Regions from separate parts of the Homo sapiens genome. Here all the other regions are linked to region 1. Evidence: fine-mapped expression QTL. A gene starts in region 1. Each other region holds a variant in brackets. All regions are shown on one strand. Distances are from middle to middle.

What was found.
Region 2: its variant is fine-mapped to the expression of HEMK1 in prefrontal cortex (BrainSeq, PIP 0.95).
Region 3: its variant is fine-mapped to the expression of HEMK1 in monocytes (TOPMed, PIP 0.94).
Region 4: its variant is fine-mapped to the expression of HEMK1 in whole blood (TOPMed, PIP above 0.99).
Region 5: its variant is fine-mapped to the expression of HEMK1 in blood mononuclear cells (TOPMed, PIP above 0.99).

The regions. Positions count from the first base shown.
Region 1 is chr3:50,566,760-50,571,860 of GRCh38, reverse strand. HEMK1 (HemK methyltransferase 1, mitochondrial release factors N(5)-glutamine) reads right to left here and starts at 2,339. Exons shown (of 11, transcript NM_016173.5): 1 at 2,287-2,339; 2 at 529-930; 3 at 60-151. The coding sequence starts at 756. It overlaps C3orf18 (chromosome 3 open reading frame 18), which reads left to right and starts at 4,114. Exons shown (of 6, transcript NM_016210.5): 1 at 4,114-4,398. RefSeq lists an enhancer at 2,415-2,534 and a silencer at 3,973-4,482.
Region 2 is chr3:51,503,781-51,508,881 of GRCh38, reverse strand. It overlaps LOC105377085 (a long non-coding RNA gene), which reads right to left and starts at 1,812. Exons shown (of 3, transcript XR_940835.3): 1 at 1,524-1,812. It also overlaps a transcript of DCAF1 not described here. The variant G/AG (reference allele first, on the strand shown) is at 2,757.
Region 3 is chr3:51,132,673-51,137,773 of GRCh38, reverse strand. The region is part of intron 9 of DOCK3 (dedicator of cytokinesis 3); the gene reads right to left. Among named protein-coding and RNA genes, the nearest start is that of MANF, 250 kb to the left of the region's middle. The variant G/C (reference allele first, on the strand shown) is at 2,684.
Region 4 is chr3:50,511,475-50,516,575 of GRCh38, reverse strand. No RefSeq gene overlaps it. Among named protein-coding and RNA genes, the nearest start is that of CACNA2D2, 10 kb to the right of the region's middle. RefSeq lists enhancers at 318-956, 3,801-4,746. The variant A/T (reference allele first, on the strand shown) is at 1,978.
Region 5 is chr3:50,587,752-50,592,852 of GRCh38, reverse strand. HEMK1 (HemK methyltransferase 1, mitochondrial release factors N(5)-glutamine) reads right to left here. Exons shown (of 11, transcript NM_016173.5): 11 at 1-5,101. Among named protein-coding and RNA genes, the nearest start is that of HEMK1, 21 kb to the right of the region's middle. RefSeq lists enhancers at 1,916-2,025, 2,046-2,135, 2,206-2,265, 2,276-2,395. The variant TG/G (reference allele first, on the strand shown) is at 2,668.

The DNA of each region.
Region 1 (5,101 bases):
GGGAGGCTGGACTGCTGCTCCCTGAACACATCCTTCAGGTCTGATCCATGGGTGCTCACCTCTGCAATCGACGGCTACTCAGCTCCCGGATACACTGTAGTTGCTGAGAGGTCAAGGGCTGGGTCCAAAGTGCCGGCCTCAGGCTCTGAAACTGTCCCCACAGAGAATATAAGTGGCTGGCTCACTGGGCCCAAGGCCCCCAACCCAGGTGTCTTATGTGGATAATGCCTGCCCAGCACTGGTCTGGAGGCCCAACCCTCTCATCATCTGGGCCCAGAGGGGGCAGCATCCTGCCTAAGGTTACACAGCTAACACCAGGCTTCCAGGTGTCTATCCCAGAACACTTAGGCAGAGATATATTCATTCATCCAACAAACTGTTACAGTGTGTGCCAGGCGCTAAGACGTTCCTTCAGAAAAATCCCATCAGTCTCAGCTAAGCACTCTTAGTGAACAGAAAACCTGGATATCCCTTCCCCAAGTCCTCCCTCCTCCCTCTTCCTGTCCTCTTGACAACACTAAACTTAACTGTTTTGGCTCCAAGGACATGAGCCACGATGTACTCACTGGATTCCCGGGCCTCAGGGATACCCCTCTTCTCAAAGACCCCAGTCCAGTGGCTGACCAGTTCTATGGCACTGGATAACCCAGCCAGAGGTGGTTGGGGTTGCCATGAGCTGAAGGCCCAGCCCCGGGTACTTCCCCTCCTCCCTGGGCCAGACAGGAGGGCCCACAGCATTCGGCCCCAAAGCTCCATGTCTCAGGGAAAGGTTCTCCAGAGTGCTTCCAGGTTCCCAAGTCTGCTTTATGATGTCAGCTGCTGAGGTGAGTGCTGAGAGTGGCCCCTGGACCCAGCTGGGTGGAGATGGAGAGGTCACAAGCTCTGGTGCCCCAAAATGGCTCTGGTCCTCAGATATAGTTGGTTGCCACCCTGGGAGTGAGAGGAACCAGGAAAGCAGGTGAGCCTTGTATGACACCCCCCCTTCTACCAATACATTGCCTGAGAATAGTTGTGCTCTTGCTCTGACACCCCCTTGACTCCATTTAGAGCCTTACCCACCTATTTGATCATTCTTGTCTTGGCCACTTACGTTTTCTTCACATTTTTAGCTGGAGTGGGCTGAGCCCATAGCTCAGTCTCTGCTAATAAACGGGTTGGTGGTAGGTTAGGGCACATATGTGGGGACAGGACAGATCTGTGTCTAACCTAGCGTGTGTGATCTTGAGCAAGTCATTATTTCTGATTTTCACTTTCTTAATCCATAAGATGGGGGAAAATCACACCAAACCCATGGCAAGCAATGCATTAGTCTATGAATATCCAAGGCCTGGGAGGCAGCTCAACACACAGCAGGGACCAGATGTTACATGATCTTAACTGATGTTACAAGAGGCAGATGATTGCCTTTAATTGGGAGCTTTGAATCTGACATTGTGTGTGTACTGTCATGGATGTACATGCTGAAAATTTCCTCCTAATTTAACCTATAATCCGGGACATCAGCGTAAACCACCAACTAAAAAATTTACAATTGTATATTTAAAGAGGTCACAAGCAAGTTTAACTGAAGGTTTAAAATCAGCGGTCCCCTTTGCTTCCAGATAAAAGTCCAAACTAGCGTTTATTAAGCACCTGCTAAGTGCCACATCTTCAGATACAAGTAGGGTCAGAGAAGGGAAGCGACTTGCCCAGCGTCACTCAGGTAGAAACTGTCCCAGGCAAGCTGGGCACGGTGGCTCACGCCTGTAATCCCAGCACTCTGGGAGGCCGAGGTGGGCGGATCACGAGGTCAGGAGTTCGAGACCAGCCTGGCCAGCATGGTGAAACCCTGTCTCTACTAAAAATACAAAAAATTGGCCGGGCATACTGACGCGCACCTGTAGTCCCAGCTACTTGGGAGGCTGAGGCAGGAGAACTGCTTGAACCCAGTTCAAGCAGGCGGAAGTTGCAGCGAGCCGCGGTCATGCCACTGCACTCCAGCCTGGGTGCCAGAGAGAGACTCCGTCTCAAAAAAAAGAAAAAAAAGACTGTCCCAGGCAAGACACGAACCCGAGTCCACCAGACTCCAGAAGCGGCTCTTGCACCAGTGCGCCGTCCCAGGAGCCAAGGCCCGAAGTCAGAAGTGTAAACTCCCTCACAGCTACGCACCGCATTGTTAACGACCCAGATGAGGCCCCCTCTCTCCAACCCTGTTTCCCCATCTGCACTATGGAGAATGGTACCGGCCAGGTCTCCAGGCGGTTGCAGTCGAAACACCCCGTTCCGATCCCCACCTCCCATGCATACCTGCCTGAAAGGCTGCCCCACCCACCCACCAGCCGGAGAAGCTGCCCCGAACTGGACGCCCGGACGTGCGTGGCCCGTCGCGCGCTCCCTCGGACGCCCCGCTTCCGGGGTCGGCGCCTTTAAGAAAAGGCTCGGGCGGACGCCGTAGCCCAGCTTCAGTGTTCCTATCGCTGGTGGGTTCCTCCCAGGAGACCCCTGCGGATGGGTGGGGAGGCTGTGAATTCCACTCCCTCTACGCTCGCAGGCCTGCATACAGGAAAGTGCGGGGATGTGTGTGGGGTTGACCCTTGGGGGCCCGGACCTGCCGGTCTTCCTTAAAATCACAGCAGGGATTTGGCTCCAGCCCAAGGGGATTGCTCCGAGCTGGCGTTTAGGAACCAGGCCGGGAGGTGTGTGGGCGGAGCCCAGTAGCCTGCCGGAAAGGGGGCGTGTCACCAGAGGGCCCGGGTGTTCCGGCGGGGACCAGATGTCCGGGGGCGTGGTCTATCTTAGCCTGGGGGCCGGGTGGAGCTGTGCATGGGCGGGTTCCAGTGTTGAAGGCTGGTCCAACTTTGGGGTCCAGTCCCAGTGTCGTGACCCTACCGAGGTCAGTGGCCCGAGCCCACCAGGGGGTCGGCCGACTGGCGGCCAGACCCCAGGGGCCGCTCTTTTACCGATTCGAATCTTGACTCTATTGGCAACTCCTCCAGGTGTTGGGACCTCTGGACCTCAGTTGCGCCTTCTATAAAATACTCGGCAGCGTCTCGCAAAGTGTGTCTTGTCAACATCTCCCCACCAGAAAGTACTGTTAACTAGAACACTGTTAACTACTTTTTTTTTCTTTTTTTCTTTTTTTTTTTTTTTTTTTTTGAGACGGAGTTTTGCTCTTGTTGCGCAGGCTGAAGTACAATGGCGCGATCTCTGCTCACTGCAACCTCGGCCTCCGGGTTCAAGCCATTCTCCTGCCTCAGCCTCCCAAGTAGCTGGGATTACAGGCGTGAGCCAACACGACCGGCTAATTCTGTATTTTTAATAGAGACAGGGTTTCACCATGTTGGTCAGGCTGGTCTCGAACTCCTGACTTCAGGTGATCCATCGCCTCGGCCTCTCAAAGTGCTGGGATTACAGGAGTGAGCCACCACGCCCGGCCTTAAACTGCTATTAAACATGCTGTTTCCCTGCCTCCTTCCCAGACCGGGAGACACAGGGGCGTTTGCATTTGTACCAGGCTACCCGGTGACTCCCATAAACTACTTTGAAAACCGGCGGATCAGGAGTATCTGAGGGCTCCTTCCCTGAGCTGATCATGCCGTGGATGGAAGCTATTGTGAGGGTATATGTAGACTTGCCTGGGTCGGGGTGCCCAATAATAAATCCACCCCACTCTCAACTTCTGTAGACGAAGATTCCCCATCTTCGTCTAGAACCCTCACACCAGAGGACCCGTCTGAGTAGAAAGCCAAGGTTCAGGAAGGGAAAAGCAGTTTCTTCAAGGTCACAAAGTCAGCCAGAGTTCAGTGCAGGCCCAAGGACTCCCAGTCCAGTGCTCTCCCCAAGTCTCCTCTGTACATCCATCCGCGTTTTGGGGGCTTGAGTCTGTCCTGGCACGGGTAGCTGGCAGGGGTCCCGAGTTCTGGCCCGGAAGGGCCTGGCCACCCACTGTCCTCCGCCCAACTTCGGCGCAGGCCACGGGGTGAGGGTAGTCTCTAAAAACTGCGACCAGGTTCTAGGCTCCCTCTGGGGGTGGAGCCAGACCCGAGCGACAAGCGAACGGTCCAATTCTGGGCGGGCTCTAGGCCCGACAGCCAATCGGAGGCCGGGGGCGCGGAGCGTGCAGGGAGGCAAGGCGCTGTAGCTTCGGGGATCCCCCGAGGCTGCTCGGCCCGGCCCCACCTCCGCCGTGGGTCCCGGCCCTACCCACCCTAGCTCAGGCCGGCAGAGCCAGCGCTCGCGGATGCGGCTGGTGCGCAGTAGCGGGCCTGGCCAGCGGCTCGGGGCTTGCAGGGAGGGCGGATCTCGGGTCGGACCCGCAGCCCCAGACGCCGGGCTTGGGGGTTCCCCCCGCCCCGGCCTCCTGCCAGTCACTACCACCCCTAGCCTCTCCAACTGAGCTCGGCGCCGGGAGAGGATTAAGTAAGTGCTGAGGTCACTGCTCCTGTGCAAGAAGGGAGGCATCACAGGGTCGCGGAGGCGGGCATGGGGATTGGGGCAGGGAGGACTGAGAGACCTGGTGGAGAACAGCATGCGGGTTCTCGAAGGTCGCGGTGCCGACCCCTTTTACCCCGGTTTCCTTCCCTTCCCCTTTGGACCCTGAGGCAGGCCTGGAAAGTGGTCAGTAGGGCCTCTTCTCTCCTTTGGGAGGCGATGTTAACAGAGCCCCAGGGCACGAGTTAAGGGTTTGGCCCAAGGTCACGCCCGGGATCAGTTGCAAAGCCAAGAAAAGAACCCGGGACTTCCTATGTGCCCAGATGTGCCCAGCCTAGCTGGAGGGAGAAGGCAAAGAGGGATGAGCCTTTCTACCCCATAACCCTCTGCCAGCCTTGCCCCTTCCTCAGGGACCATCAGAGGTGTTTACACATCTCACACACGCCCATGCATCTGCACAGGGAGGCAACCCCACTAATGCCCATGAACCAGCACAGGGGGATGTATGCACCCACGAGCTAGGTATCCCTCCTCTCCCTAGGCCGTCCCATCTGCAGCTTGGCTGGCACCTCTTCCCACCCCACCTTAACCAGGGCCCTCTGCACTGGGCAAATCTCTCACCCTCTGCTTCCAGGGGAGGAGGGTAAAGGAAGAGAAGGCACCCACACTGGGAGCTCCATTCCTGCCTCGC
Region 2 (5,101 bases), 940 kb before region 1:
CATCCAAAAAAGGACCAGGACAATTCCAGAGACTACAGGGATCTCGGAAGAGAGTTAGGCAAAGATGAATGTTACCTGGAGAAAGCCTCCTGTCTCCTGCCTATTGGATTCAGGTACAGAGAGGTGACTGTTGTACTCCTGACTTAGAACCCATGTGGGCTTTGAGCCCCTAAGGCCTAGATGCTGATTTCAGAGCCTGCAAGAGAGGAACAAAGGTAGGAGCAGAGGGCCAGGTGAGAGGTGGGCTGGGGACACGCTGGTGGCTGGAAATAAGCTGAACTGGAACCAGGAATGAGTAGTTGCAGCGGAAATATTCAGAGCAGAACTCTTGAGGTGGCCACTACATGTGGCATTCTTTGTCCTGTTCCCATCTTTCATAATCTGGACTTTGCAGTCACAGATTCACAGCACCTGAAAGGGTCTGGAAGCCATGTGGTACATGGTTTTTTTTTTTTGAGACGGAGTCTCACACTGTCGCCCAGGCTGGAGTACAGTGGCTCGACCTCTGCTCACTGAAACCTCCGCCTCCCAGGTTCAAGCAATTATCCTGCCTCAGCCTCCGGAGTAGCTGGAATTACAGGCACCCGCCAGCACACCCGGCTAATTTTTTTTGTATTTTTAGTAGAGAGATTTCACCGTATTGCCCAGGCTGGTCTTGAACTCCTGACCTTGTGATTTGCCCGCCTCGGACTCCCAAAATGCTGGGATTACAGGCATGAGCCATCGTGCTCAGCCGGCTGGTGCATGGTTTTTAAACTGCATTCCTTGTAACACTAGGAGTTTTTCTGCCACATCATGACCTAGAATCCCTTGCATCATTCCTTTTCTCTACTTAATGAAGAGGTATACAAGATTTCAGTGGGACTAAAAAGACTCTGTGGTAAAATCATAATACTAATATAATTTGAAAATCATGGATCTAGGCCAGGCACAGTGGCTCACGCCTGTAATCCCAGCACTTTGGGAGGCCGAGGTGGGTGGATCACGAGGTCGAGTTAAAGACCAGCCTGGCCAACATGGCAAAACCCCATCTCTACTAAAAATACAAAAATTAGCTGGGCATGGTGGCGTGTGCCCAGCTACTCGGGAGGCTGAGGCAGGAGAATCACTTGAACCGGGGAGGTGGAGGTTGCCGTGAGCCAAGATCGCACCACTGCACTCCAGCCTGGGCAACAGAGCAAGACTCTGTCTCAAAAAAAAAAAAAAAAAAAAAAGAAAGAAAGAAAGAAAGAAAATCATAGATCTAGTAAAGCCCTCCTTATGGGGGATGTATGAGGAAACTTGCCCAGGGTCACCTCTAGTCTCTTGTACCTCACACCAGACCTGTCCCACAGGATGCCTGCTGGCTCCATAGAGCAGACAGCAGAAACCCTCAGTGGAGGCATGGCTTGAATACAAAATAGCCAAGATGTCTCCTTGGTCTGGAGGAGACACATGGTGGTGAGCAACTCTCAACAGAATTAATGACACCAAGACCCAGACCTGCAGACCCTGAGAGGCAGTGAGATGCTGTCTTAGCTTACCTGCCAAAAGTCCACAGGATTTGGTCTGTTCTTGCCTTCATGAAATGTAATGCCCTGGACAGGGATACAAGGCTCTTGGGTTCCAGGCTGCCCCTGACTTCTGGGAATAGCAGCCTTCATTTTAAGGGAGGGAGCTGGGCATAGTCATTCAGGCCTTAGACTGTAAGCCTTGAGGGCAGGGTCTGTGCTGCATTCTCCGCAGCACTGAAGACACAGGGTACAGGGCCAGGCACAGGGCAAGGGCTCGGGAATCCTAACTTAAGACACATTTTTGTTCATTTGATTTTCTTTTTTTTCTTTTTTTCTTTTTTTTTTTGAGGGAGTCTCTCTCTGTCGCCCAGGCTGGAGTGCAGTGGCATGATCTTGGCTCACTGCAACCTCTGCCTCTGGGGTTCAAGCGATTCTCCTGCCTCAGCCTCCCGAGTAGCTGGGATTACAGGAGTGCCCAGCTGATTTTTTCTATTTTTAGTAGAGACGGGGTTTCACCATGTTGGCCAGGCTGGTCTTGAAATCCTGACCTCAGGTGATCTGCCCACGTCGGCCCCCCAAAGTGCTGGGATTATAGGCGTGAGCCACCCATGCCTTGCAACTTGTTTTTAAAACAAGGTTTCCATTCAGTGGCTGCCCCCATGCCCCGCTTACGAAGTGTGACCTTCCAAGGCAGTAACTGAGTTTCCACATTTTGTGGAATGACACTTTCTCCCCGGGTTGTTTTCTGTTTTCTCCCCTGAATTGCCTCTTCAGGAGGTGGGAGTCTCTACCCTCTGGAGAGAGTGGGCACTGAGCGCTCCACTTTCTTCTCTTGACACTCTTCTTCCTCTGCGTAATCCAACAGGTAGGGGTGCCCCAAGGCTACCAGGGCCACTTTTCAATGTAGCAGAATTTGGCAGAATGTGCTTGCCCAGGAAACAGGTAGAAAATGGATGGTCAGGCCAGGTGCAGTGGCTTATGCCTGTAATCCCAGCACTTTGGGAGGCCAAGGCAGGTGGATCGTTTGAGGTCAGGAGTTCGACACCAGCCTGGCCAACATGGTGAAACCCCGTCTCTACTAAAAATACAACAATTAGCCAGGTGTGGTGGCGGACACCCGTAATCCCAGCTACTCAGGAGGCTGAGGCATGAAAATCGCTTGAACCCGGGAGGTGCAGGTCTCAGTGAGCCAAGATCACACCACTGCACTCCAGCCTGGGCGACAAGAGTGAAACTCCATCTCAAAAAAAAAAAAAAAAAAAA[G/AG]AAAGAAAAGAAAAAGAAAAAAGAAAAGAAACTGAATGGTCACAGAGGGATGGCACTGAGGAGAAGATCTGGTCCCTGGCTCAGGGGCCTTAACCTCCTTTTTCCAGGGATGACCCAGAACATCAGTGATCAGGACCCTTATATATATTCAAAAGGGGCAAGGGTGCTCCTCTGGCCCTAGGGTCTCAACGGATGGGATAATGGTCAAGGAATACAGGCTCAGGCCCCAACTGTTCTTATCTTTTGGCGATGACTGAGACATGAGAAACTGATCCCATCCTGAGTCTCCAATAACCCTCCTCACCCACTACAGCCTGAGACTGGTCCAGTGAGCCCCTCCAGACCCCACACCCCTCTCCAGAGCCTACAGGCTGCTTGTGAAGTCCCTTCTCCCCTAAAGTCATGCCCACTAGTCCCTGGTTGTCCTGGTCCCTGGTCCTGTGGGGAGGCAACCAGCTTTGTGACTTCACAAAAGGCTATCTTGTCAGAAGCCTGGACCTGCTGAAGCAGGAGCAGGGCAGAGGGGGCTCCCCTCAGGAACATCATGAGACTTTTCACACAGAGACATCGCCACCTCTAAGGGATGAAGAACTTCCCCACGGTAAGAGCCCATGACACCCTCTACACCTAGAAACTCCCGTCTTGATGACTTTGGCTCCCAGGCCTAACTGGGTACCCCAGGCTGTATCTGGCAACATCTCCAAGAGGGATACGCCCATGGTAGAAGTATTTACTTCGGTTGGTGTGGTGGGTCTCTGACCTTTGAATTTGTTCCATTCAACAAAGCCATTCTTCTGTAGGCCCTCTCTTTTTTTAATTTAAAAAATTATTATTAATTTTATTTTTATTATTATTATTTTTTGAGACAGAATCTCACTCTGTTGCCTAGGCTGGAGTGCAGTGGTGTGATCTCGGCTCACTGCAACCTACGCCTCCTGGGTTCAAGCAATTCTCATGCCTCAGGCTCCTGAGTAGCTGGGATTACAGGCATGCACCACCACACCTGGCTAATTTTTGTAATTTTTTAGTAGAGATGGGGTTTTGTCATGCTGGCCAGGCTGGTCTCGAACTCTCGACCTCAGGTGATCCACCTGCCTTGCCCCCCTAAAGTGCTGGGATTATGGCGTGAGCTACCACGCCTGGCTGTAAGAATTATTTTTATTTTTATTATTTTTTATACTGATAGAGTCTCACTATGTTGCCCAGGTTGGTCTTGAACTCCTAGGCTCAATGATCCACCTGCCTCAGCCTCCCTAAGTGCTGGAATTACAGGTGTGAGCCACCGTGCCAGGCCCAGGCCTTCTTGAAATGAAATAACTGATAGAGTGGTAAACTCTTTCTGACCTGAGTCATCATGAGGGTCTGCCCCAGCAGTCTCCAGAGTACCTTCAAATGGGTCAGGCCAGAGATCCCTGAATCCTGTAGAATGGTCTATTCCCTGAATCCTGTAGAATGGTCTTTCTAAAAATCCAGGAGTGGCCAAAGCATGGTGGTTCACACCTGTCATCCCAGCACTTTGAGAGGCCAAGGTGGGTGGATCACTTGAGGTCAGGAGTTCGAGACCAGCCTGGCCAACATGGTGAAACCCCATCTCTACTAAAAATACAAAGATTAGCCAGGTGTTGTGGCGGGCACCTGTAATCCCACCTACTCAGGAGGCTGAGGCAGGAGAATTACTTGAACCCAGGATGCAGAGGTTGCAGTGAGACGAGATTGCTTCACTGCACTCCAGCCTGGGGACAGAGTGAGGCTCCATCTCAAAATAAATAAATAAATAAAAGTTCAGGGGTTGCCAGGCGCGGTGGCTCACGCCTGTAATCCCAGCATTTTGGGAGGCAGAGGCGGGCGGATCACGGGGTCAGGAGATCGAGACCATCCTGGTTAACACAGTGAAACCCCGTCTTTACTAAAAATATAAAAAATTAGCCAGGCGTGGTGGCGGGCGCCTGTAGTCCCAGCTACTCAGGATGCTGAGGAAGGAGAATGGCCTGAACCAGGAGGCGGAGCTTGCGGTGAGCTGAGATTGTGCCACTGCACTCCAGCCTGGGCGACAGAGCCAGACTCCATCTCAAAAAAAAAAAAAAAAAAATGTTCAGGGGCTTCTGAGAGCTTGGAGCCAAGGCCAATACAGACTCTCTCCCCAATGTTGACTCCACTCTTCCTCCTGGAAGGATTTCCAACCCCAGGAACCTGAGGCAAAAGAGGCTAGGTATGCTTGCTTTTTTATCTCCTCTTTATCTGTGCCCACTGATCGATGTGGGCACTTAAGTTGTTGACTTTGTGGAATTTGTTTCTTTCTCTGTAAAGTGAGAGTAGTGGATGTGGATGTAATCAGACATAATTAC
Region 3 (5,101 bases), 570 kb before region 1:
ACTACTCTACCTTTAGTTGTTTTTATGATGATGAACTATAGACAATAGCATATGAAGTTACATTAATTTCATATTATTGATCAAGTTCTTACAAATGAATCCCATAATTTCAATCTGTGACAAGTCTAATGGTGTCTTAATTTTAAGATAACTACCTTTTTTGAGATTTGTAATTCTTGGATGGCACTGCGTTTTGTACATGCCTTCACTGATGGCAATTCATGCATCCCTTCAACAAATGTTTGGTGACTGCCAATGAGGTATCAGCCCATGCCCGGCACTAAGGCAGAGACGAGTTTCTTATCCTCAACGAGGGTACATCCTAAAGACTCTGTTTTGGAAACGGAAGCAGTTTTCTCAAATAAATTTAGAGGAATTCTCCCAACTTTTTCAATTTAATCTTTATGTTCCTCATTCGGTCCTCCATGAATATGGATGCCAACTGCTTAGCATCTCTCTCATGATAACCTGCCAGGTGCTTGAAAATAAGCAAGTAGCCCCAAGGTTATACTACACTGTATGACCCAACAGAGTAGGAAATATCTAATATCCCCTCATAGATTCATTTTCCAATTTAGATCACTTGGCTTTATTTCTCAAATTCTTTAAGTTTTCCCACTTTATTTTAAAGCACAGAAAGCAGAAATACACACAAAAAAGGGGTTTTATAAAGGCAAACGATGGTCCAGGGCTATGGTTTCCAAATTTATTTTTTTAAGCTGTTTTTTTTTTAATTAATTTATTATTATTATACTTTAAGTTTTAGGGTACATGTGCACAATGTGCAGGTTAGTTACATATGTATACATAGTGTCAGCTTTTCTCTTCTTTTCAACAGAACCTTACTCTGTTCACCAACATATAAAAAATTAAGAAGCAGATTTTCTTGGGTTGAATCAGAGGTGAGGGTTTCAGGAGAGGGGGATAATGCAGGAATCCTCCATAGTTAGGCCTCCACTCTGACCACCAGTTCTCCTTGAGACACTTCAGGACTCCAAGTAACATTTTTGTAACTACTGGTATAATGCAAGGGTTCTTTCTAGCCTTCCTCTTTCCCTTTTATTTTTTCAACAAACATTCACTAACTTCTATCATTTTGCAGAAACCGAGCTAAATGCTGAGGCTATAGAAATGAAATAATTCCTGTCCTCAAGTCTGGTGGAACAGAGACACACATAAACCACAAATTGCACCACGATGTGAAAATGCTATAATTGCATAGAAAGGGGCTGACAAGGCCAGGCACGGTGGCTCATGCCTGTAATTCCAGCACTTTGGGAGGCCGAGACGGGTGGATCACAAGGTCAGGAGATCAAGACCATACTAGCTAACAAGGTGAAACCCCGTCTCTACTAAAAATACAAAAAATACAAAAAAAAATTAGCCGGGTGTGGTGGTGGGTGCCTATAGTCCCAACTACTCAGGAGGCTGAGGCAGGAGAATGGCGTGACCTGGGAGGCAGAGCCTGCAGTGAGCCGAGATCGTGCCACTGCACTCCAGCCTGGGTGACGAGCGAGACTCCATCTAAAAAAAAAAAAAGGTGGCGGGGGGCACCGACAAACTACTGGATTGAGGGTAGGCTGCCTGAAGGAGGTACTGGAACAGGTTCTTGAAAGACTGCAAGGCTTTTGCCACTTGGTAAGGGGTAATTAGAGATGAAGAAAAAGGTATTCCAGGAGGAGAGAGTGCAAAGTGCAGACTTTCTAAAGGATGATGTAGCTTATTGTATGGGGAAGCTCAGAGCATGAGTTAAGAGGGTACTAGAGGCTGCATGCAATGGCTCCACCTGTAATCCTAGCACTTTGGGAGACCAAGGCAGGAGGATCACTTGAGCCCAGGAGTTCAAGAACAGCTTTGGAAATATGGCGAGATCCTGTCTCTACAAAAACTTAAATATTAGCTGGACATGATGGTATACATTTACAGCCCTGGCGACTCAGGAGGCTGAAGTGGGATGATTGTTTTGAGCCTGCTGACGTCAAGGCTGCATGCAGCCTTGCACTCCCAGCCTAGGCAACAGAGTGAGACCCTGTCTCCAAAAAAATAAAAATAAAAATAAAATAAAAAAAAGAGTACTGGATAGCTGGCCAGAGGTGCCATGCAACACAGTGTGGATTATTTACGTGTGAAGAATTTCCAAATTTGACTACCATTAGTAGTACCTGGCAGCTTACTTAAAATGGAAATATCCTGGGCCAAACCCAAGATCATCTGGATCAGAATCTCTAGAGGAAAGGATTCCCGGAGACAGTCCAGGAATCTATAATTTTAAGGACTTCAACTGGTATTAGGGCTAGCAAGTTTGAAAAACCCTATTGTGGGCCTTAGAGAGGCTCTGAAAGTTCAAACTTGAGAAGCAGCATGATCCCCTAAGTGTTTAGACTGAGCATCTGGGCTGCAATGCAGAAGCCAGGTTGGTAACATAGAAAGAACTCCAGAGAGACAACAGTAGCAGCCCAGGCAAACTATGACACAGTCTTAAAACTGAGGAGAGGTGAATGGATGTGAGATATATTTAGGAGACACAGCTGACCAGATTTAGCAGTTGACTGGATGTGGTTATATCAACCAGAGAAGATATAAAAGAAGATTATATAAATTTTGGGTATACATACTGAATTCGAGGTCTCTGTGGAACACATACGTGAACAGAAAACAGGCAGCTAAAAACCCATGTCTGAAA[G/C]TCAGAGAAAATATGTGAGAGGGAGATACAGCTCTGGTATTGATTATTTTGCTGTAGTAGCTGCAACAGCAGCCACTGAGTGAGTGTTTTTTTGCGCACCAGGCATTGTTTTAAGTATTTCTTTTCTTGCCTAATTGCTCTTGATCTTTACAACAGGTATTTTACCTCTGAAGAAACTGAGAGTTGGAGAGGCAAAGTTCCTGGCTTGAGATGAAAAAGTAGAGAGTAGTAAAGTTGAAATTCAAATCTGGAAAGGTTTGAACTCAAAGCCCATGCTTTATCTGTTATTTCCTCTCATGAAATAAGTACTGAAAAAAAGTTTTGGGGTGTGGAAAATTCGGTTCCATGGGAAAATATACCTGGGAAATGCTGCAAGCCACATCTTGCTTCAGAGATGAAGAGTGTCTGTGTGGCATAGGCTCCTAGAGGTGCTGCATGAAAGAAATCTATCTCCAGGATTCCTATTACCTACATGTACTCTGACTCTTCCAACTAGAAAGTCTATGCCATGTACCCATTCCAGCTCTTCTGGAGGCACACAGTTTGTTTGAGGTTCATGACATTCCCACCAAAGAGACATAGGTAATGATTTGCTTGATTAAGAACAAGCAGAAACTTGAATGGCAAATAATCCCAGAAAATTGGCTTTTTCCATTTTGTCTAAGATAAAACAGACACATGAGTAAATCTGCTGTTACATATTCTCAAGTAATTATAAAAACATTTTTGTAATTATACAGCCCCTATCAGGTCTTCAGAAAACAGAACTACCATTTCACCCAGCAATCCATTGCTGGGTGTATACCCAAAGGAATATAAATCATTCTACCATAAAGACACATGCAGGCATATGTTCATTGCAGCACTATTCACAATAGCAAAGACAGGGAATCAACCTAAATGCCCATCAATGGTAGACTGGATAAAGAAAATGTGGTATATACACACCATGGACTACTATGCAGCCATAAAAAAGAACAAGATCCTGTCCTTTGCAGGAACATGGATGGAGCTGGAAGCCATCATTCTTAGCAAACTAACGCAGAAACAGAAAACCAAACACTACATGTTCTCACTTGTAAGTGGGAACTAAATGATGAGAACACCTGAACACAAAGAGGAGAACAACAGACACTGGGGCCCACTGAGGGTGAGGGTGGGAGGAGGGAGATGAGTAGAAAAAATAACTATTAGGTACTAGGCTTAGTACCTGGGTGATGAAAGAACATTCTATCATCTCTGAAGTTCCTTCTCAATCCTGCACCCTTCCCTCTTAGTGGGCCCAAATCAATAAATTCAGCCTGACCCAACTCTATGTTCCTTCCACCATTATCCCACACCCTTAATATCCATTCCCATGCCTGTTCTCTAGATTTCTGTTTGTATAAATTAGACACAGCAATCCCATTACTGGGTATATACCCAAAGGATTATAAATCATGCTACTATAAAGACACATGCACATGTATGTTTATTGTGGCACTATTCACAATAGCAAAGACTTGGAACCAACCCAAATGTCCATCAATGATAGACTGGATTAAGAAAATGTGGCACATATACACCATGGAACACTATGCAGCCATAAAAAAGGATGAGTTCATGTCCTTTGTAGGGACGTGGATGAAGCTGGAAACGATCATTCTGAGCAAACTATCGCAAGGAAAGAAAACCAAACACTGCATGTTCTCGCTCATAGGTGGGAATTGAGCAATGAAAACACTTGGACACAGGGTGGGGAACATCACACAATGGGGCCTGTCATGGGGTGGGGGGAGGGGGGAGGGATAGCATTAGGAGGAATACCTAATGTAAATGATGAGCTGATGGGTGCAGCACACCAACATGGCACATGTAACATATGTAACAAACCTGCACGTTGTGCACATGTACCCTAGAACTTAAAGTATAATAATAATAAAGAAAACTCAAGCAGTTCTTTTCGAGTGTAGTGCACCTTCTCATGGGTCACACTCTCAGCCTCACCTCTAGGGACCTGCCAGGACCTTAGTCTAGTTACAGCTCTATAAGTAAACAAGGGTGTTGGGGGTGGGTCCTGAGGAAAATCAACATTATCCTGCCTGGCAACTGCCTCAGGGGAGGCCATCAGTGTTGTCTCAGGCAGCACAGCATGTATCTCCTCAGACAAAGGTGGAAAGGCTGATGGCAGCTTGGGTCGGGGAGGGGATGCTGACATGACTGGGGATGGGGACGGTGTTCTTTCTGGCAAAAGAGGTTCATCAGAGTTCACAAACTCAGTGTCCCCAGCTTCATCAGGGTCCTCCCCCATGTCCCTATTCCAAGTTGCAGGGTCTCATTATTTTCCAATAAATGCCCTCACTTTAACAGTAGACACCTGGCAAGGCTGTGCATGCATATTTCATTGCGGAACAGCCACTTGCATGATAAGAACTTGTG
Region 4 (5,101 bases), 55 kb after region 1:
CCTGGGGAGTGGACTCAGAACTCACAATCTGGAGAAATGGATTCACAAGCAGCCCTGCCCTGCCCCCCTGACTGGAGAGCCAGAGAGCCTGCGAAGGCCTGGGCAGCAGACGGGAGTCCTGCTAAAAGTAGGGAACATGTCCAGGCTACAGGGGCAGCAGAGCAGGCTGCAGGCCCTTTAGAGATGACGCTGGGGTCCCCACATGACTTTTTCTGGGACAAGCAGGACCCCAGCAAGGCCATAGTCCAGCCTCAGGGCACGGTGTGAACTGTCCCTCCCCTCCAGTCCGGGCCATGGAGACTCTGTGCTCCACACCCACAACTTACATCCTGCTGCCTGAAGAGGGGCCCCTGGCTGCTGGCCAGAGCACAGTTCTCAGGGACTCTGAAGCCCCTGGGGAGGGGCAAGGGGCCCGGCCCTGATGGGAGGGTGCGGGAGGCGCAGTGCGCAGGGCAGGCGGGGCCCGGCAACAGCTGTTCACTTACTGAAGCTATTTTGTAATATTGCCAGAGCTTTTAAAATAATCCCATTTCGGCAGAATATTCCCAGCTAATTGGAGCTGTCTCTTTCTTATTAAACAGAAAGGTTATAAAAATGTGTGTTGAGGGTTTAAGAGCAATACCTCTCGGCTGCTCTGATTGTTATGACAAGGATAACGTACCGGAAGCCCATGCTTGGCTGGCTGGGCGGAGCAGGCTCTGGTGGCTGGGCAGGGGCAGCGGTGGGGAAAGGGGCGGGCAGAGGAGCAAGGACAGGGGCAGGGACAGGGGCAGCAGCAGGGCCGGGCTGGCTCTCCTCGTGGCCCCCCGCACAGCACACGCTTGAGGAATGGCAGCCTTCCCCAGAACAATTGCTCTCTAAACACTTAGGCTGCTGTGACAGGGCTGTCCATCACCCAGGCCTCTGACTGGGGGAATTCGCATAATTTACTGAGAGGCAGAGGAGAAATGGGGAACTGATTCCAATTAGCTGAGCTGGGAGGCAGATGAGTTCGCCAAGACCTCAGTTCTTAGGGAGGATGAATAAATACCTGCCCCCCTCTCCATGAAGTGGGGCAGCCTGAGAGAGAGGGCTCTCTGCCCCCACAGTTGTTCTGGCAACTGAGGGGCAAGCTGGGCCGGGGTACCAAGAGCTCCCGTTCTGCAGATGAGAACATGAAGCCCACGGCTGTAAAAGGCTTTTCACAAGGTGATCCTAGGAGAGTGGAAACCACAGTCCAGACCGTGTCAGGGGCAGAAGCCTCTGCCCAGCACCTGTACCACCTCCAGTGCAGGGCATGCACCCTGATTCTGTCCTGGGAGCCTCTCAACCCCCTGACCACCCTCCATCACAACAACTCTACTTCAATCTGGCATATATTAGGGATCTGCATCCAATTTAGTTTAAAAATAATTCCTTGTTGCTTTAAAATCAGTTTGAAATGCAGTGTCCTGGAATGGGTAGACCCAGCTTCCATGGATCCCCTCCCTGCCTGGAAGCTGCCCCTGTCTGATCAATTTACCAGACCCTCTCGGGGCCTTTCTAACAGAAGGTAAGATTCCATACTGAGCTCAGCCACCCACCTCTGGGCCCTTTCTGTTTGTCTGTCTTGGAGTCTCTCTCTCTGAGACTCTGCTTCCACCATTGCTCACCGCAGGCCACGCCACTTTCCCTGTGCACCTCAGAAACAGGCAGGGAGGCCTCCACGTGCTGCCCTCCTTGCTGACCTATCACTGAAATGGACCCTGAGCCTGGCCCTAACCTTGGCTTGGGGCTCTGTTCCTAGCTGGCTGAGTGGGGGTGTTTGGCATGTGCCAGACACCGGGGAGTGTGTGTGTGTAGGGGTGGTGGTGGCATTCCTGCCCTGCCTCCCTCTGCAGGTCTGGAGGACACCACGAGTACAGCCTTTCCATAAATGCTTTATGATTCAGCAATGGGTGAAGCCCCCAGTGGCCTCCCAGCAGCTCTGAGAGGAAGATGAGGAGTGGAGTTTACTGA[A/T]CCCATTTTACCTTCAAGAAGACTGAGATGCAGTGACGTTAGCTAACAAGCTCAAGGTTACCTGGGCCCGGTGGATGTCTGCTGCCTCTCTAGCCGTGAATCAGGCCAAGGTGCTGGATGACTGTCCTTTCCACCCTGTGCTCATGGGACATTTCTCCCATGATTTGTGGCCGCAGCTTGGATCTAGCCTGGTCACCCGCCTCCCAGCCTCCTGTCCTGCCTGCTCTGATGGAAAGGGCTCTTTCATCATGGAGAAGCCTCATTCCTCGAAACAGAGCAGACCTTCAATGCTTCACTGGCTTTCCCTGGAGCAGATCCTACCTCAACACCTTTTACTAGTTCTCCAATGTTCCCTTCATCTGGAATGTCCTTCTCTACTCCACCTCCAGAAAGCCTTCCCATATTCTGGCAGCAGAAAGCAGCCCCTGTCCTCATGCACACCAAAGTGCAGATGTTCAACTCTAAGCCTCAAGGAGTCCAATAAGGGGCAGGGGAGGCAGGAAGGGGGCTGGGCATAGGACCCTTGCCTCATTCATGGGGTCTGAGGCTGCTCACCTCACTGGCCGTGTGTCAACAAATCTTCAACTCTCTCCTGCAAAGCCCTCCCCAGAGATACCTTGGTGGGGAGGCAGAGTAGAGAGGCTCAGCTAAAGTGAGAGAGAGGCCGCCGAATTGTTGGATCATTGGTGAAACCCAAAGGCTGCACTGTCACCCTGGGAGCTTTTCTAATAATTTGCATTCCATGTGCATAGTTTTGCATATTGAGATAAAATGGGCTTACTTAAAAAAAAGATTACAATATGCTCCTCATGAATCAACCCAGGAGGAGCTGGATCGGGAGTTGGAGCCCATCTTTGCTGCTTCCCAGCCAGCCTTAAGCAAGCCACTCAGAACTACTGGAGCATCAGTTTCTTCATCTGCCCAATGGGGCAATGGGGCTAATGCTACCTACCTGGAAAGCTGTTTTGAGAATTAGACATCCTTCTGGCCCAGTGCCTGGTAGGAAGTGGGGATGAAGGGGTTGAAGAGGAGGCAGTGGTGATGGGGGTTATTATTCTGGAGGAAACATCAGGAATTCTTACTTGAAAATCACAAGCCCCAGTGACCTGGGGCAAGCCCTTTTCATCTGTACAGTGAACATATAGTCCCCAGGGGAGGTTAGGAACAGGGGCACTCCAGCCTGGGGTCTAGCCCCTCGGGGCCTACTTATGGGTACCGCAGCAAGACTCAGTGAGGTCACAGTGTGGTCCCTGTGGTCCCAAGCCTGTGCCAAGAACAGGCTTAGGGGCTTGAGGGGTGAGCAGAGCCTGGGGTAAGAAGACCCTAGAGCTGTCCAGCTTTCTATGCGACAGCCAGACCAGCCTGAATGGGCAGCAGCTACCCTGGCACGTCCAGGAGAACAGCAGTAGTGCGTGTGCGTTTGTTGGGAGAGGGGACCACTGAGTGCCTGGGGCTTACAGGGAGCTCTGAATCTAATCAGAGAGATGTGGCTGGCAGGGAACAGCAGGGCAGCCTGGGAGGAGGTTACATGGAGTTCTGAAGGCAGGGTTCAACTTTTTTTTGTTTGTTTGTTTGAGACAGAGTTTCACTCTTGTTGCCCAGGCTGGAGTGCAATGGCGCAATCTCGGCTCACCACAACCTCTGCCTCCCGGGTTCAAGCGATTCTCCTGCCTCAGCCTCTTGAGTAGCTGGGATTACAGACATGCACTACCAAGCCCGGCTAATTTTGTATTTTTAGTAGAGACGGGGTTTCTCTGTGTTGGTCAGGCTGGTCTCAAACTCCCGACCTCAGGTGATCCGCCCGCCTCAGCCTCCCAAAGTGCTGGGATTATAGGTGTGAGCCACTGTGCCCAGCCAGCGTTCATCTTATTCCCAGGGATCTGACCTGCAGGACTGGCAGGGGTCACACATGCCAGGCCTGACCCCAGGCCTCAGCGTGATGGAGGTGACATATGATTACATAGTCATTTATTCATTCATCAACACTTGATAATGCCCTACACTCTGAGGGGTGAGCATGCCTGGCATACCCGTTGCCCTGGTGTTTGGGTTCTACCTTCCACTCTTGCCCCACGCCTGACTCACTGCCAGTCTTTCCTGTCCATGGCCTGCTCCCAGCCACCCCACAGCAGCCAGCTTAGATTTTCAGGTAAGACCTTGGTGGCTTGTTGCAAACTGCTGAGTCCACATGGCGATCCTCCCTGAGGTCTCTCTCAGTGAGCCTTCCCCCCGCCTCTGCCTCCCTGAAGCTCCTCCTCACTCATTTGGAAATTAAGACCTCAGCAAGATGGTGCTTTGGAGCTGCCAAGCAGGGCTCAGCAAGGCCATGGCAGGGGGAGGGGAGGGGCTTCCAGCTGGTGGGAACATAAGTAGGTAGGAGCCTCCTCACTCTCTTCTGGACTCTCACTAGCCTGTGCAGGTACAGCCTCCCAAGCACCCCTTCTGGGGCCTGGAGCCCAGCAAAACTCTCTGGGAGGAGAGAGGGTTTAGTTCTGCCTTGGGGGCTCCCAGATCTCTAGGGTCTGTCTAGGCCACCGAGGAGCCCTCTGCTCTCTGCATTTGTCCTGGCACCTGCCTTGCTCTGCCGACCTCAGTATAAGCTCCTTATCAGCAAGTGGAAAACAGACACCCAAGATGGGAACATGGGCCAGCTCTAACCATCAGACAAGGCCATGGATGGCCCCAAGCAAGGACCCAGGGGGACCTGGGACCTGGTCTCTACTGCTTACTGGGTAACTTTGGGCCTACCCCAAACCTCTGAGGCTCAGTTTGCCCAACTATGGAATGCAGTAAGGGGTCCACAGAGATCCTGCTTTCCTTTGAAAGGGATTCTGTGGCTCAGTCATCTCCAGAGTGGCCAGGATGTTTCCTATCTGCCCATACTCAGGGCCCAGGTGGAACGGGACCCAGAATCCCGACAAGCCATAGTCATTTCTGGACTTGTACCCTGGATAGCCTCCCTTTCCCCACCCCACACCTTTGGGGGCAATGATGCCCCTCCCTCAGCTAGCCCACCTGGGGGCAATGGTCCCAGGCCAGCCCCTGTCCTGTCTATCCCCCGCAACTCCCATCCCTGTCCCCATTTCCTGCCATACGACATGGCCTGCATCCTCCCTCCTGAGCA
Region 5 (5,101 bases), 21 kb before region 1:
GCACAGTGCTCCAGGTCTCCTCCCACAGCCACAGCCAGCAGCCTCCTCTGCCCTTGGAGGGCGCACAGGACCTTGTTGGGCCTTCGGAGGAGAAGTAGGGTTGGGGGCAGGTGGTGACTCTGGCAGAGGCTCTGTTTCCTCTTCCAGCTCCAGGGCCCACCCCACTGTGACTGGCAGAGTCTGAAGGGCTGGGCTGGCCTGGGTGTGGCCCCAGCTACGAAGATCCTCCATCCAGAGTCTCAGGCTCTAGGGGTCAATTTTTGGCTTTTGTAGGGAAGTAAACAGGAGGTGGGAATGAGGGGACAGATGCTGGAGGGAGGCTGGCAACAGGGGAAAGTTCCAGAGGGTCAGAGAAAGTAGAAGCATTTGAGTAAAATTTGGAAGGCTGAATTTTATTCAAGGAATCAGGGAGGGAGGGTGGCAGGGAGAATGAGTTCCAGGTGCCCAGTACAGCTAAGCAAAGCACCGGTATTGGAAATCCTGGGGTTGGTTAGTGAAAGCTGGGAGGAGCCTGTGGTTAGTTCCCAGGCGGGTTTGCTGGGAGAATCACCAGCCTCCATTTCCCAGAGGTCAACGGAGTGTGGTTCTCAGGGGGTGCCAAGCTCCAAGCATGAAGCCAAAAAGGTCAGGGATGTGGATAAGGTCTGGTTCATTTCCCTCCCAGACCTGCCTCACCTTGCTGTGTGACACTGGGCAAGTCATGGGCCCTCTCTGAGCTTTGGCTCTCTTTTCTTTCTTTTTTTTTTTTTTCTGATGCGGAGTCTCACTCTGTCGTCCAGGCTGGAGTGCAGTGGTGCAATCTCCGCTCACGGCAAGCTCCGCCTCCCGGGTTCAGGCCATTCTCCTGCCTCAGCCTCCTGAGTAGCTGGGATTATAGGCACCCGCCACTACGCCCAGCTAATTTTTTTGTATTTTTAGTAGAGACAGGGTTTCACCGTGTTAGTCAGGATGGTCTCGATCTCCTGACCTCGTGATCCACCCGACTCAGCCTCCCAAAGTGCTAGGATTACAGGAGTGAGCCACCACGCCCAGCCCCATCTTTGGCCCTCTTTTCTATGACATGGGGCAGTGTTTGAGCTTACATGGGCTCTGCGCTCCCATGACTTGGAGGCAGTGGTTGGGCCTCTGAGGCAGAGTAACACCACACACACACAAACACACACACACACACACACACACACACACACACGTGCATGCATGCAACCCTGGCTTGGTTTCCAGAGCCTGGAGCTCCCCCATCCAAGGGAGGCCCTGCGTGGACACCTATGATTATGGACATGGACCCAGTTGGCCAGGTGCAGTGGCTCACGGGACCCGGTGCTCAAGGCCCACGCCCATGAACATACACGTACGTGTGGGTGCCTGTGCAAGGGTGTGTGAGTCTCTATGCTGTGTACATGTGATGTTGCTTGGCTTCCCCAGAGCCTAATGCCTCCCACGGCTCCCCACTGCTGACCAGAAAAATCGTAAGGACCCAGCTACTCATGAGGGGCCTGTCAGGAGGAGTCTATGTGCAAGTCCATGAGTTCTGCAAGGCCAGGGCCCCACCTGAACCATCCAACCTCCTGGGCCTGGCTTACAGTTGGTGCCTAATAAATGACTGTGCAGGAATGATGGGCCTGCAGGTAAGACAGGTGAGACAGGCCAGATGACAGCCTCAGTTACCCCTTCCCCAACTTTGGGAAGGTGGTCTCAGCCCTCAGCAATCCTAGGACCCCTCACGGAGGCTGTTGGCAGGAAAGGACTCGTCCCAGATGCTGTGTCCTCGCCTGACCTTGTATTCTGCCCCACCTAGTGGCCCTAAGGGAGGCTGAGGTACTGAGCTCTTGGCTGTGACTAAGCGGAAGGAAGACAGAAAGGAGGGGTGATACTGGGGCCCTAGGGTTTTGCTTCTCATTTCTCTCTTTCCAAAGCACAGTTAGTTCCCAGAAATGAAGGTACCCAGAAACAGTGAAACTCTGGGCTTTCAGGGGCACAGGGTCCCCCAGTCTTTCCACCCTTGGAGGCACCACCAAGGGCCTGGGTAAGTCCCTAGCCCATGTCTACTCATGGAGTACTTGGGGCAACCACACTGGAGCCTGGTGGGGCTCCCAAGGACCTTTCAGGAGCATGTGGCCCAGATTGATTTGCTGTGACAGATGCTGGGTGGGAGGTGCCGGGAGCCTCAGGCTATGGGGGCTGGAGCAGTTGGGGCAGACCTCCGGGAAGGGAATGGTCACGTGGGGCATCAAGTGCCCCAGATGCCCCACCCCACAGGAGTTCCTTTCGTCCATCCTTTCACTCTTCCTCTTTTTTTTTTTTGAAACAGTCTTGCTGTCGCCCACGCTAGAGGGTAGTGAGGTGATCTCAGCTCACTGCAACCTCCGCCTTCCGGGTTCAAGCGATTCTCCTGCCTCAGCCTCCCGAGTAGCTGGAATTACAGGCATGAGCCACCATGCCCAGCTAATTTTTGTATTTTTAGTAGAGACAGGGTTTCACCATGTTGGCCAGGCTGGTCTTGAACTCCTGAGCTCGGGTGATCTGCCTGCTTCAGCCTCCCAAAGTGCTGGGATTACAAGTGTGAGCCACCCTGCACGGCCCCTTTCTTTCTGGCTTCCTCCTCCCTTCTTCCTTTTCTTTCATTTTTAAAACATTTTTTTAAAATTATTATTTTTAAATTTTTTTTTT[TG/G]AGATGGAGTCTAGCTCTGTCGCCCAGGCTGGAGTGCAGTGGCATGATCTTGGCTCACTGCAATCTCTGCCTCCCGGGTTCAAGCAATTCTCCTGCTTCAGCCTCCCGAGTAGCTGGGATTACAGGTGTCCACCACCACACCCAGCTAATTTTTGTATTTTTAGTAGACGGGGTTTCACTGTGTTGGCCAGGCTGGTCTTGAACTCCTAACCTTGTGATCCTTGGCCTCCCAAAGTGCTGGGATTACAAACGTGAGCTACTGCGCCTGGCCTATTATTATTATTTTTGAGACAGAGTTTTGCTCTTGTTGCCTGGGTGGGAGTACAATGGCGTGATCTTGGCTCACTGCAACATCTGCCTCTCGGTTTCAAGCGATTCTCCTGCCTCAGCCTCTCAAGTAGCTGGGATTACAGGCGTGAGCCACCACACCCGGCTAATTTTTGTATTTTTAGTACAGACGGATTTTCACCATGTTGGCCAAGCTGGCCTCGAACTCCTGACCTCAGGTGATCTGCCTGCCTCAGCCTCCCAGAGTGCTGGGATTACAGGCGTGAGCCACCGCGCCCGGCCTAAAATTATTTTTTTAGAGACAGGGTCTGACTCTGATGTCCAGGCTGGAGTGCAGTGGCGCTATTATAGCTCACTGCTGTCTTAAACTCTTGTGCTCAAGTAATCCTCCTGCCTCAGCCTCCCGAGTAGGTGGGACCACAGGCATGTGCCACCATGCCCAGCTCATATTTTTAATTATTGAAAAAAAAAAAACCCAATTTTAAAAACCACACACAGACTCAAATGGGCACAGCACCAAATTATGACACATTAGAATCCTTCCTATGTGCTCAGAGAACAGGGTTTGTGCTGAGCTTGAGATAAGGCTTCTCTTGCTGTCCCTGTCAATCAAAGAGACTGCAAGGTGGGCTTCAGACACAGTGCTAGCATTTGTAAACAATTATCTGTGAGAATCAGCGGTCACTTTGTCCTGTGCTACCAAAATCAAACACTGAAAGAAAATGGACATTGAGACCAACATAAGACTACAACTACCATCCCAGCCCCCAGTTCAAACATTTGTGTTCATTGCTCTTCGCCCTGATGGACTGTATGCTAAGAAAGAATTTGCACTTGCAAAATACATTTTTGCTAACTAGATGCTCATTTTATCTTTTTAAAAATATGTATTTCAGTTGCACATGAAATGTACTTTGAAAGAATGAGCTCCAAAGTTCTGGGGGGCTGAGACAGGCGGGCTGAGTGAAATGATGAAGAAACAGTGGCTTTCAGTGCGGGCCAAGAGAGTAGTGAGCAATGGTCAGTTATTGAGCTGTGGAGTGCCTTCAACAAGGGTTTTTAGACACATCCATCTGGTGCCTCATCCCAGAACCTCACAGGCCTAGGGACCTGAAATGCTCCCCATGACAAGGCAAACTTCATATCCTCACATGCTGAGACAGACTCAACTTTCAGTCTGGAACTGGGCTGGGTGTCTGTCAGTCCACGCCACCCATATCCGGAGTACATCAGAGTCTGGGTTCAGTGGCAGCCACTTTCGCTGCCCTCTCCTGCCCCACACCTAGCGCTCTGCCTGGCCCCTTTGCTGTGGGCGTGAAAATCTGGCACCCGGGCCGACAGGGAGAGAGCTCAGTCTGCGTCTGCTGCTTTCTGTTTGATTCATCACTTTCCCCTTCACCCTGGAGCCCACGTTGGCTGTGGGGCACCTAACTGGCTCCTGAGGCCCCTCTGGGGGGTTGAGGCCCTGGGCTGCATTTGGCCTCGGCAGCCTGCTCACGCCTCTCCTGACTGGGATGTCAGAGGACTAGGTTCAAACTCCAGCATGGCCAGCTGCTGGCTGTGTGACCTTGGGCATGTTAAGCCTCAGTCCCTTCATCCATACAGTGGGCCAAGGAAGGGATCCCTGATGTGCCAACAGATGGATTTATGACCACGTGTGTGCAGCACCTGGCACTAGTTTACACACTGCAGATGCCCGGTACTGTTGTCGCCAGCACTCAGGTCTAGGAGAGTGGTCTTCACAACTCTACCTCAAGGGTTGCCTTTGGACTGTGTCCCCACATGGTCACATTTGCATCTCCAGACGCCCCAATGCTGCTTCTCGGATATTCTGAAGGCATCCTACACTGTCAAGCTCCCCGACTGTTCCCCCCAGCACCCCAGTCTCCAACTCAGGGTGGCCCCATTTCCCCCAGGTCCCAATCAGATCCCTGGGCCCACTGTGGTCCTGGCCATCTCACATCCAAACCCTCAGCAATGGTTGTGAGTCAGTTCTGTTCCAGAATATCTGATGCCACTGCTACAGACCCCAGCCACCTCCAGACCCTGGACAAGTTGCAGCCTCCTGCCCCAGCCCCTTTTTCCTGGCAGCCAGAAAGAGCAGCCTCAATGCTTCTCTAACCCTGTAACTCAGCTCAAAAAGCT